Regions from separate parts of the Homo sapiens genome. Here regions 1 and 2 are each linked to region 3. The links come from fine-mapping of genetic effects on gene expression. A gene starts in region 3. Each other region holds a variant in brackets. All regions are shown on one strand. Distances are between the middles of the regions. Region 1 overlaps UBA3 (ubiquitin like modifier activating enzyme 3). Region 2 overlaps TMF1 (TATA element modulatory factor 1). Region 3 holds the start of TMF1 (TATA element modulatory factor 1).

The links. PIP is the estimated chance that this variant, and not a neighbour inherited with it, causes the effect.
Region 1: its variant is the best candidate, but not a certain one, in a credible set for the expression of TMF1 in breast (GTEx, PIP 0.65).
Region 2: its variant is the best candidate, but not a certain one, in a credible set for the expression of TMF1 in pancreas (GTEx, PIP 0.50).

Annotation. Positions count from the first base shown.
Region 1 is chr3:69,076,939-69,079,702 of GRCh38, forward strand. UBA3 (ubiquitin like modifier activating enzyme 3) reads right to left here. Exons shown (of 18, transcript NM_003968.4): 3 at 860-980. Among named protein-coding and RNA genes, the nearest start is that of UBA3, 2.0 kb to the right of the region's middle. The variant T/C (reference allele first, on the strand shown) is at 1,044.
Region 2 is chr3:69,027,118-69,029,881 of GRCh38, forward strand. TMF1 (TATA element modulatory factor 1) reads right to left here. Exons shown (of 17, transcript NM_007114.3): 11 at 2,698-2,764; 12 at 1,109-1,178; 13 at 783-875. Among named protein-coding and RNA genes, the nearest start is that of EOGT, 15 kb to the left of the region's middle. The variant GT/G (reference allele first, on the strand shown) is at 1,606.
Region 3 is chr3:69,051,067-69,053,830 of GRCh38, forward strand. It overlaps TMF1 (TATA element modulatory factor 1), which reads right to left and starts at 1,267. Exons shown (of 17, transcript NM_007114.3): 1 at 879-1,267. The coding sequence starts at 1,020. RefSeq lists an enhancer at 859-1,328.

The sequences.
Region 1 (2,764 bases), 26 kb after region 3:
TAACACGAAAACATATAAAACTCTTAGAAAATTCCTTATCAGCAGAAATACAATCATTTAACAGAAGTAACAATCTTAAATTATCAGGCAAAAAAAAAAATTTAGAAGCACAAGAAAATATGGTGTGTTATCTAAAGAAAGACAGAATTAATACTTTCAATTCTTTTTCTTTTTTTTTTTTTTATTTTTAATGCTTTCAGTTCTGCCCAGCATTAAAGGAGAAAGTTATTCACATGAGACACTGGGCCAAACCAAGAGTTTGCACGTTAATTTATGGGAGTAACACAATATTTCTATTTCAAAATACTATCTTTTTATAAATACAAAAGCACATAAAGATGTGCTATACTTTTCCCTACCCTGTAATAAAAAAAAGTGACATATAAGTGAACACTTGCCTTAAGATAGACACTATCAGTCCAAAATTCTACGCCTCTATTATTTAGTACTTACATAATTCTTAACATGCAATTAATTATACTCAAAGCTAAGATGTTCATTCCAACTAAATTTCAAAATTTAAGTAAGCACACCTATACTCCTATCAAAATTAATTTCTCACAGTAGCACTACAAAAGGGGAGTATGTTTCAGAAAGCATTTTAAATTTTTACATGAGGTCATGAAGTTAGATTTTTCTCACAAAAATTTTCAACTTATATTACATGAGAAATGTTAAGACTCAAATATTCAAACAAAATCAGTTGTGAATATTCAATCTCATATTTTAAGAAAAATTTAGTTTCACAAAACAATTTTATTAGTATTTTCATTGTAAGAGCAAATTAAAAAAGAAGCATTCTATTAGTTTTGAAACATAAAACTATTAGAGCAGTTATTTAAAAATAAACGTTTCTCACTTCAGTGCTCGGTTCGAAATCAGGGTGTGTGAAGGGTCCAGATCGCTCGAGGAACTTCTTTACATGGTTCCAGCGACCTTCCCAGTCTCCAGTGTCCCCACACCCACCATCAACAGCCATTCTGCACAGAACACAGTAAATTCAGCTGCAAAGATCAGTATGAAAAAAACCACACCTACAACTA[T/C]TATGGTATCCCCAAATGAAAAGGTAACCACACCAGACCTGCTCAAATAAAAAGGAAAATATTCAATGTGATTATGTTTATGCTTTGAAATTTTTTCTTGCCTATTATACAATTCATTTAAAGTTAAGAACTGCACGTTTCTATTTTTATTTCACCCAATGGATGAAATAAATCAGTCTACATGTTTTTGGTTTCCTAAAGCAATCCAAGGTTCAACTTAGGATATTGGTCTATTATGTGAGAAATTGACTTCTCTACATTTGGTATTTACAAAAAAAACACTGCAAGCTTCCTCAATCTGTTGTTTCATCACACTTGCATTAGGAAATATGAGATACAACAGAGAAAAAAAGTCACACTTTCAGAATTCTGATGCTTATATGTCTGATGCAAATTTAATATTTATGTGTCCTTTCCAAAGGTGTAATCTAAAAATCACTTTGATGAGAGGAATTTTCACACACTTTTCTCAGAAATAAGGTTATTTTTTCTTTTTCTTTTTCTTTTTTTGTGACAGAGTCTCACTGTGTTGCCCAGGCTGGAGTGCAGTGGTGTGACTGCAGCTCACTGCAGCCTTGCCCTCCTGGGCTCAAGTGATTCTCCTGCCTCAGCCTCCCAAGTAGCTGTGCCTACAGGTACATGCCACCATACCCAGCCAATTTTTGTATTTTTAGTAGAGACGGGTTTCGCCATGTTGCACAGGCTGGTCTGAAACTCCTGAGCTCAAGTAATCCGTCCACCTCGGCCTCCCAAAGTGCTGGGATTACAGGCATGAGCCACCGAACCTGGCAGAGGTCTTAATTTTTTAAAGAATCTCTTAATGCTGTGGGACGGCTTTTCTTGCCACTAAACACAAAGTTTCAGATTACAATTACGCCACAGATAGACATCTACAAACCTTTTAGAACATACAACAGAATAAGGTGGGACTCCTCTACAAAATTCATCTATTTTATACTTAGTTAAGATTCACGTTTGGTTGTGATTATTTTTAATTTTCTAATTTCCTATAACTCCACAGTTTCTACCGTCAAATATATTAGTAATATCCAATTTTTACAAAAGGGACCAAGAAGTATTGCCTAGCAATAAAAACCATACGTTTTGATGTCAGAGTTGTGTTGGGTTCCACAATTAACAGCACTGTGACCTTGAGCAGATTACTTAATAGACATAAACCTCATCTGCAGGCCGTTCATAGCTACTTCTTTCAGCCATGAGGATATAGATAATCACACAGAAGACTCAGTACAGTACGTGGGATATGGTAAGCAATGTTTAATTGTGATTTCATGTAAAAGTGGGAGGGAAATAAAAGGCAGGAAAGAATGTGAAATTAAGTTTGTCATCCCGGTCCTCTTGCAGCTGAAATTCAACTGAGGGACACACATAAAGATCAAAGCACTGCTACTGGGAATCGGCACGGAAATTTACAAACTCACCATAACCAATGCAAGAGTATTTTTTCCCTGCCCAGGCAGGGAGGGGAGTAAATTATGTGGCGCTGGCCAGGTTAGAAAACACTTCGATTAAATCTGTCTCACCAGCATAGAATTAAGCATCTGATAAGAAATAGGGTGTGTAGTAAAAGGGATAAATAGGCTGTTTGAAGTCAACAACCTCTTTCCAGATCTTTTAAGAGCCAATTATTCTGCCAAAATGACTGGAGTGCTTAGTACAATACCTGACATGTAGAGTTATCATTAAAAGTTTGCAATTAG
Region 2 (2,764 bases), 24 kb before region 3:
CCCGAGTAGCTGGGATTACAGGCACATGCCACCATGCCCGGCTAATTTTTGTATTTTTAGTAGAGATGGGGTTTTGCCATGTTGGCCAGGCTGGTCTTGAACTCTTAGCCTCAAGTGATCCACCTACCTCAGCCTCTCAAAGTGCTGGGATTACAGATGTGAGTCCCCATGCTCAGCCTCAGAAAACTCATTTCAGAAAAATTACCCTCATTAACCAGAAAGAAAACAAGCCAGACTTACTCCTTAAGTGCCTATAGACCAAATGATGTGCACTGGTTTCAGTGACAGACAATTAAATTCATTTTTAAAAAGGGCAAGAGGTTTTATATTTCAAGTCCTAGAAATCATAGATCTCTTTGGATAAACTCAAAATTACTTTGGGTCCACTCTGAGCAGGACACTGATTATAATACTAGAATTCATCACTATGTTGATTTTAGACATTAAAAAAATGATACTTATAAAGCAGGGATGTCCAATCTTTTGGTTCCCTGGGCCTCATTTGAAGAACAAGAATTGTCTTGGGCCACACATAAAATATACTAACAATAGCTGATGAACTAAAAAAAAAAAAAAAAATCATGAAAAAAATCTCATGATGATTTAAGAAAGTTTGCAAATTTGTGTTGGGCTTCATTCAAAATCATCCTGGGCCACATGCCAACCAGGGCCACAGGTTGGACAAGCTTGTTATAAAGCATAGCTAAAATTAAAAAGCAATGATTAATCACAGCATCTACTAAATGGTTACACCACAAACAAACAAAAACAAAATTCAATACCTTTTCTTTTATTGTTTCTTGAGTAAAAATGGCTTTCTTCCTTTCTTGTTCAACTTTCATTCTTTCCATTTCTAACTGACTATTCAACAATGTCTAATAGAGAGAAATAAAGTTAGACAATTTCTGTGATAGTAATTCATGCCATGATAAGTCAATCTCAAAGTTAGAAGCATAAAGTATAAACTCATATTTGTTTTCCTACTAAAGACCAAGTTCCAAAAGCAGTGGCATCACCCATTTCATCTTGTTATCTCATTAATTTGCTGCCATCCCCAACCATTCTCTAATGTATGCCCTAAGAGCTGAGTGGTCACGAAGAGAAATACCTTTTCTTTCCTCGTCTCTTCAAGTGTTCTTACATATTCATCTTTTAGGTTTTCCAATTCAACCTGGTACCTATTAAACAAGGCAGAATTTAAAAAAACAGAAAATGAAAAAGATGCTAGTATAGACTATTAAAAACTCAGTACTTTATTAACTCCAGCTACATATTGAGAAATCATTTTTATTACCAGCTTGACATCAGTGATTTTCCAACAGTGTGTTCCAGATCCCATCTGAGTTTCACTCAGAAACCAAACCAAAAGTGAAAAAGCTCCACTTCTGTGCATTTTATTTATTGGTGCTCTGGGTTAAGATTTCATTTAAAAAGAGACTTTATAAAAATAATTTTGAGTACCATCATCCTATAATATGCTCAGATTCCACAAAGCTTATTAGGGAGTTCTATGAAAATGTTTCTAAAAGTTCAGATATTTTACTTTAGAAATCATTTTTACTTGACATTTTTTTAAAAAGTAAAATTTCCAAGGAAGAACAGAGG[GT/G]TAAAAAATACTAACCATTGCCTTAATATAATCTCAGATAGATGGATTTTACACCCCATGGTTTCCAAGAACCCAGAAATTTATTTAGAAAAGACTTAAATTATACTACTAAAATCCTTGTAATATAAAAGTAACTCCAAAGAGTAGTCTCAAAACTATTTTGTGGTGTTATAGGCCCCTTTAAAAAATCTGATTAAAGGTACAAATCCTTTCCCTGGAAAAAAAAATAAATACAAAACATGCCACACAATCTCAACAATCTACATGACAATGAATCCCAGTACTATCTTCTTGTTATAATATCCTATTACTTTATTTATTTTTTTTTTTTTGGAGACGGAGTCTCGCTCTGCTGCCCGGGCTGGGGTGCAATGGTGCAATCTCACTGCAACCTCTGCCTCCCAGGTTCAAGCAATTCTCCTGCCTCAGCCTCCCGAGTAGCTGGAATTACAGGCGTCTGCCACCATGCCTGGCTAATTTTTGTATTTTTAGTAGACACAGGGTTTCACCATGTTGGCCAGGCTGGTCTTGAACTCCTAACCTCAGGTGATCCACCTGCCTCAGCCTCCCAAAGTGCTGGATAACAGGCATGAGCCACAGCACCCGGCCATAATATCCTATTACTAATAACCCTAACTTTAAATGCTAAAAGTGATTACATTTAGTTCTTGGTACCCTGAAGCTAAAAGCCAACGACATACTTTGTTTATTTACTTATTTAATTTATTTTTTTTTTTTTGAGACCGAGTCTCACTCTGTCACCCAGGCTGGAGTGCAGTGGTGGGATCTTGGCTCACTGCAACTTCCGCCTCCCGGGTGTAAGCGATTCTCATGCCTCAGCCTCCGAGCTGCTGGGATTACAGGCGCACACCATCACACCTGGCTAATTTTATTTTTAGGAGAGAGTAGGTTTCGCCATGTTGGCCAGGCTGGTCTCCACCTCCTGACCTCAAGTGATCCGCCCGCCTTGGCCTCCCAATGTGCTGGGATTACAGGCGTGAGCCACGGCGCCCGGCCCAACAACATACTTTTAAAAAGTGCTTTAGGATGTCACGGAACTACCAAAAATATCACTCAGAAACCATGCTCACCTATTGTTCTCATCCTCCAGTTTACACAGCCTATTTTTCTCTGATTCTAGCTGGGCTTGAAATCTAC
Region 3 (2,764 bases):
ATCCTCCTCCGCCGTGTGACCTAGAGCAAGTTACTTGGCCATTCTGGGCCTCATTTTCCTCTTATGTAAAACACGGATATAAACCAAGCTCTCTCTGGGAGTTGTTCTGAAGATGAGAAGGCCATAAAAAAGCACATTACAGGCTCGTGCCTGTAATCCCAGCACTTTAGGAGGCCGAGGTGGGTGGATCGCCTTAAGTCAGGAGTTCCACCAGCCTGGCCAACATAGTGAAACCCCGTCCCTACTAAAAATACAAAAAGTTGCCGGGCGTGGTGGTGGGCGCCTGTAATCCCAGCTACTAGGGAGGCTGGGGAAGGAGAATCGCTAGAACCTGGGAGGCGGAGGTTGCAGTGAGCCGAGATCGCGCCACTGCACTCCAGCCTGGGCGACGGAGTGAGACTCCGTCTCAACAACAACATAAAACCACATTACGCGCTACCAAGCGCGAAATGTTCACTGACTGTTAGCGATTGTTCTTCCCTTCCCTGATGATTTACGTACTTCAGACCTTGGATCCCAACAGTGCCCGAGACGCGAAGCAATTCGAGGTTCAGGTTCGGGAAGGTTGTGCTTGGAAGCTGCGTCGAGGGAGAGCTTGAGGGCAAGACCAACCAACCAAGTCCCCTGTCATCCAAGTCCACAAGCCTCGCACCCAGGACCAAAGAAAGACAAGGGGGAACCTGGATCTGGGTTTTCCCTCAGGAAAACAGCAAAGACCGACTTGGAGGCTGAAGCAGCATTAGGGAACGGGCCGGGGAGAAATTACTTCCTGAAAACTCTCTCAGCAAGGAAGGACCCCTCTCTACACCACTTAACCTGCCTGCATCAAGAGAACAGCAGCCTCCGGGAGCCAGGAACCCCGCTCCTCTCTCTCTTACCCGGCTCTCCATACGGAATGGTCTCGGCCCAGATGCTCGGCTCCTCTTCCTGGATGTCCAGAACCCTGTCAATAGACTTCTGGGCCTGGGACAGGGCCTGCTTAGCGAAGCTGGAGAGCTGGGAGGCGTTGAACCAACTCATCGCCCCTCCTCAGCCGGCAGTGGCGGCGGCAGCACCAAGCGGGAAGGCCTCAGGCCTGGGGAAGGGTGCAGAGGAACGGCTTCGCTCCCCTTTTCCACTCGGCTGGTTCTGTCAGCGTGTGGCCATTACCCCGACAGCCTCCCGCGAGCCCGGGATGTTACCCTCGGCCGTTCCCGCACAGCTGAGACGAAGGGGGCCCATGTGCGCATGCGCTTGCTTCTTCCACGTACACAGCAACCAAATCTACGAGCCCAGAGTTCGGTCGACAGACGGAAGAACAGAAGAACGTTGACGTCACATCCGGGAGCGCAGGGTTGCCGTTAGTTACCGAGGAACGCGGAAGGGTTTCTATTGATGTCGATTTCGTGCTTACAGCAGTTCTTAGCGAAGGGGAAGCTATGGCTACCGATAGAGGTCGATTTCCCCGGAAGGAATATTCAAGTTTTCGTGTGTGTGCTTTCCAGGAAAATAGTTCACGTGCTAAAAGCTTGCACCTTGCCAGCAATAATTGCAAAGGGAAATTGGGCCTCACACTTCTCTTAGCCCTTTGTCTCAAATATTTAATAAGCTCTGTATTAACTTGGTATTGTAAGGAGAAACACTTGTTTGGGCTTGCCTAAAAGACAGGATCACGTATGAACACTGTGTCCAACTCGTGGAACACATGGTGCATAAAGCACAACCTCTCTCTCAAAATAGTAGTAAACTCATTGCTGCAGTCAAAATACCCCTAATACTGTGGTCTGTCGGTGTCCCCTGCACAAATTCCTATGTTGAAACCTAATCTCCAATGGGACAGTATTAAGGGGAGCCTTTAGGAGATGATTAGATGATGATGGAGCCCTCATAAATGGGGTTAGTGCCCTTATAAGAGAGGCCCAAGGGAGCTCACGGCAAGAAGGCACCAACTCTAAGCCAGAATAGCAGCCCTCACCAGACACCAAATCTGCCGGCTCCTTATCTTGGACTTCTCAGCCTCTAGAACTGTTAAGAAACAAATTGCTACTGCTTATAAGCCACCCAGTTTATGGCAATTTGTTACAGCAGTCCAAATGGACTAAGACACCTAGGAAGCACTAAAGCTGTTATCCTAACAATGTGCACTGTGCATATTACTTAAAACATAACCTTTTCTGTGTGCATTCTCTTCGAACATTTGGACATGGGAAAATACCTTAAATTGGTGGCCTTCCTAATCCAGTCTGCAGCTATATTTGGTTTGGGCCCAAGTTAAAGACAAAATCCTAACTAAAAGCCAGATTTCATTCAAAAATCTAGATTTCCAGCTGCTTTTGAAAAATATGAATACCAAGCATGGGAATAGTCAGCCAGAGTGGTCACCAAATAATTTTCACTCACTCCAGTTTGCCACAGACCCCTATCACTCATCCTATTACACCCTCCCTGCTGTGATTATTTACCTTATATGCCTGCCTCCCATATTTGAATATTTTACCCCACTGCAAGGAACTCTGCAAAAAAGAATTATTTTTCTTTTAAAAAATCAGATTGAACCCCTTAAGAAGTTATAATCATCTTCCAATAATTTTATCTAACTACAGTAAAAACTTGCATGTTAAAACTAACAATTTAGTCATGTACACAAGTAGTACCAAGTAACTCAAGTACTTTCAAACAGCTAAGTAGTCTGCAGAGGAGATTTGGGGCAGATTCGGGTTGAAATTAGCTGTACAGTTACAGTTCCAAGACTTCTAATTGTACAGCTTTGGTGAAATGACCTACC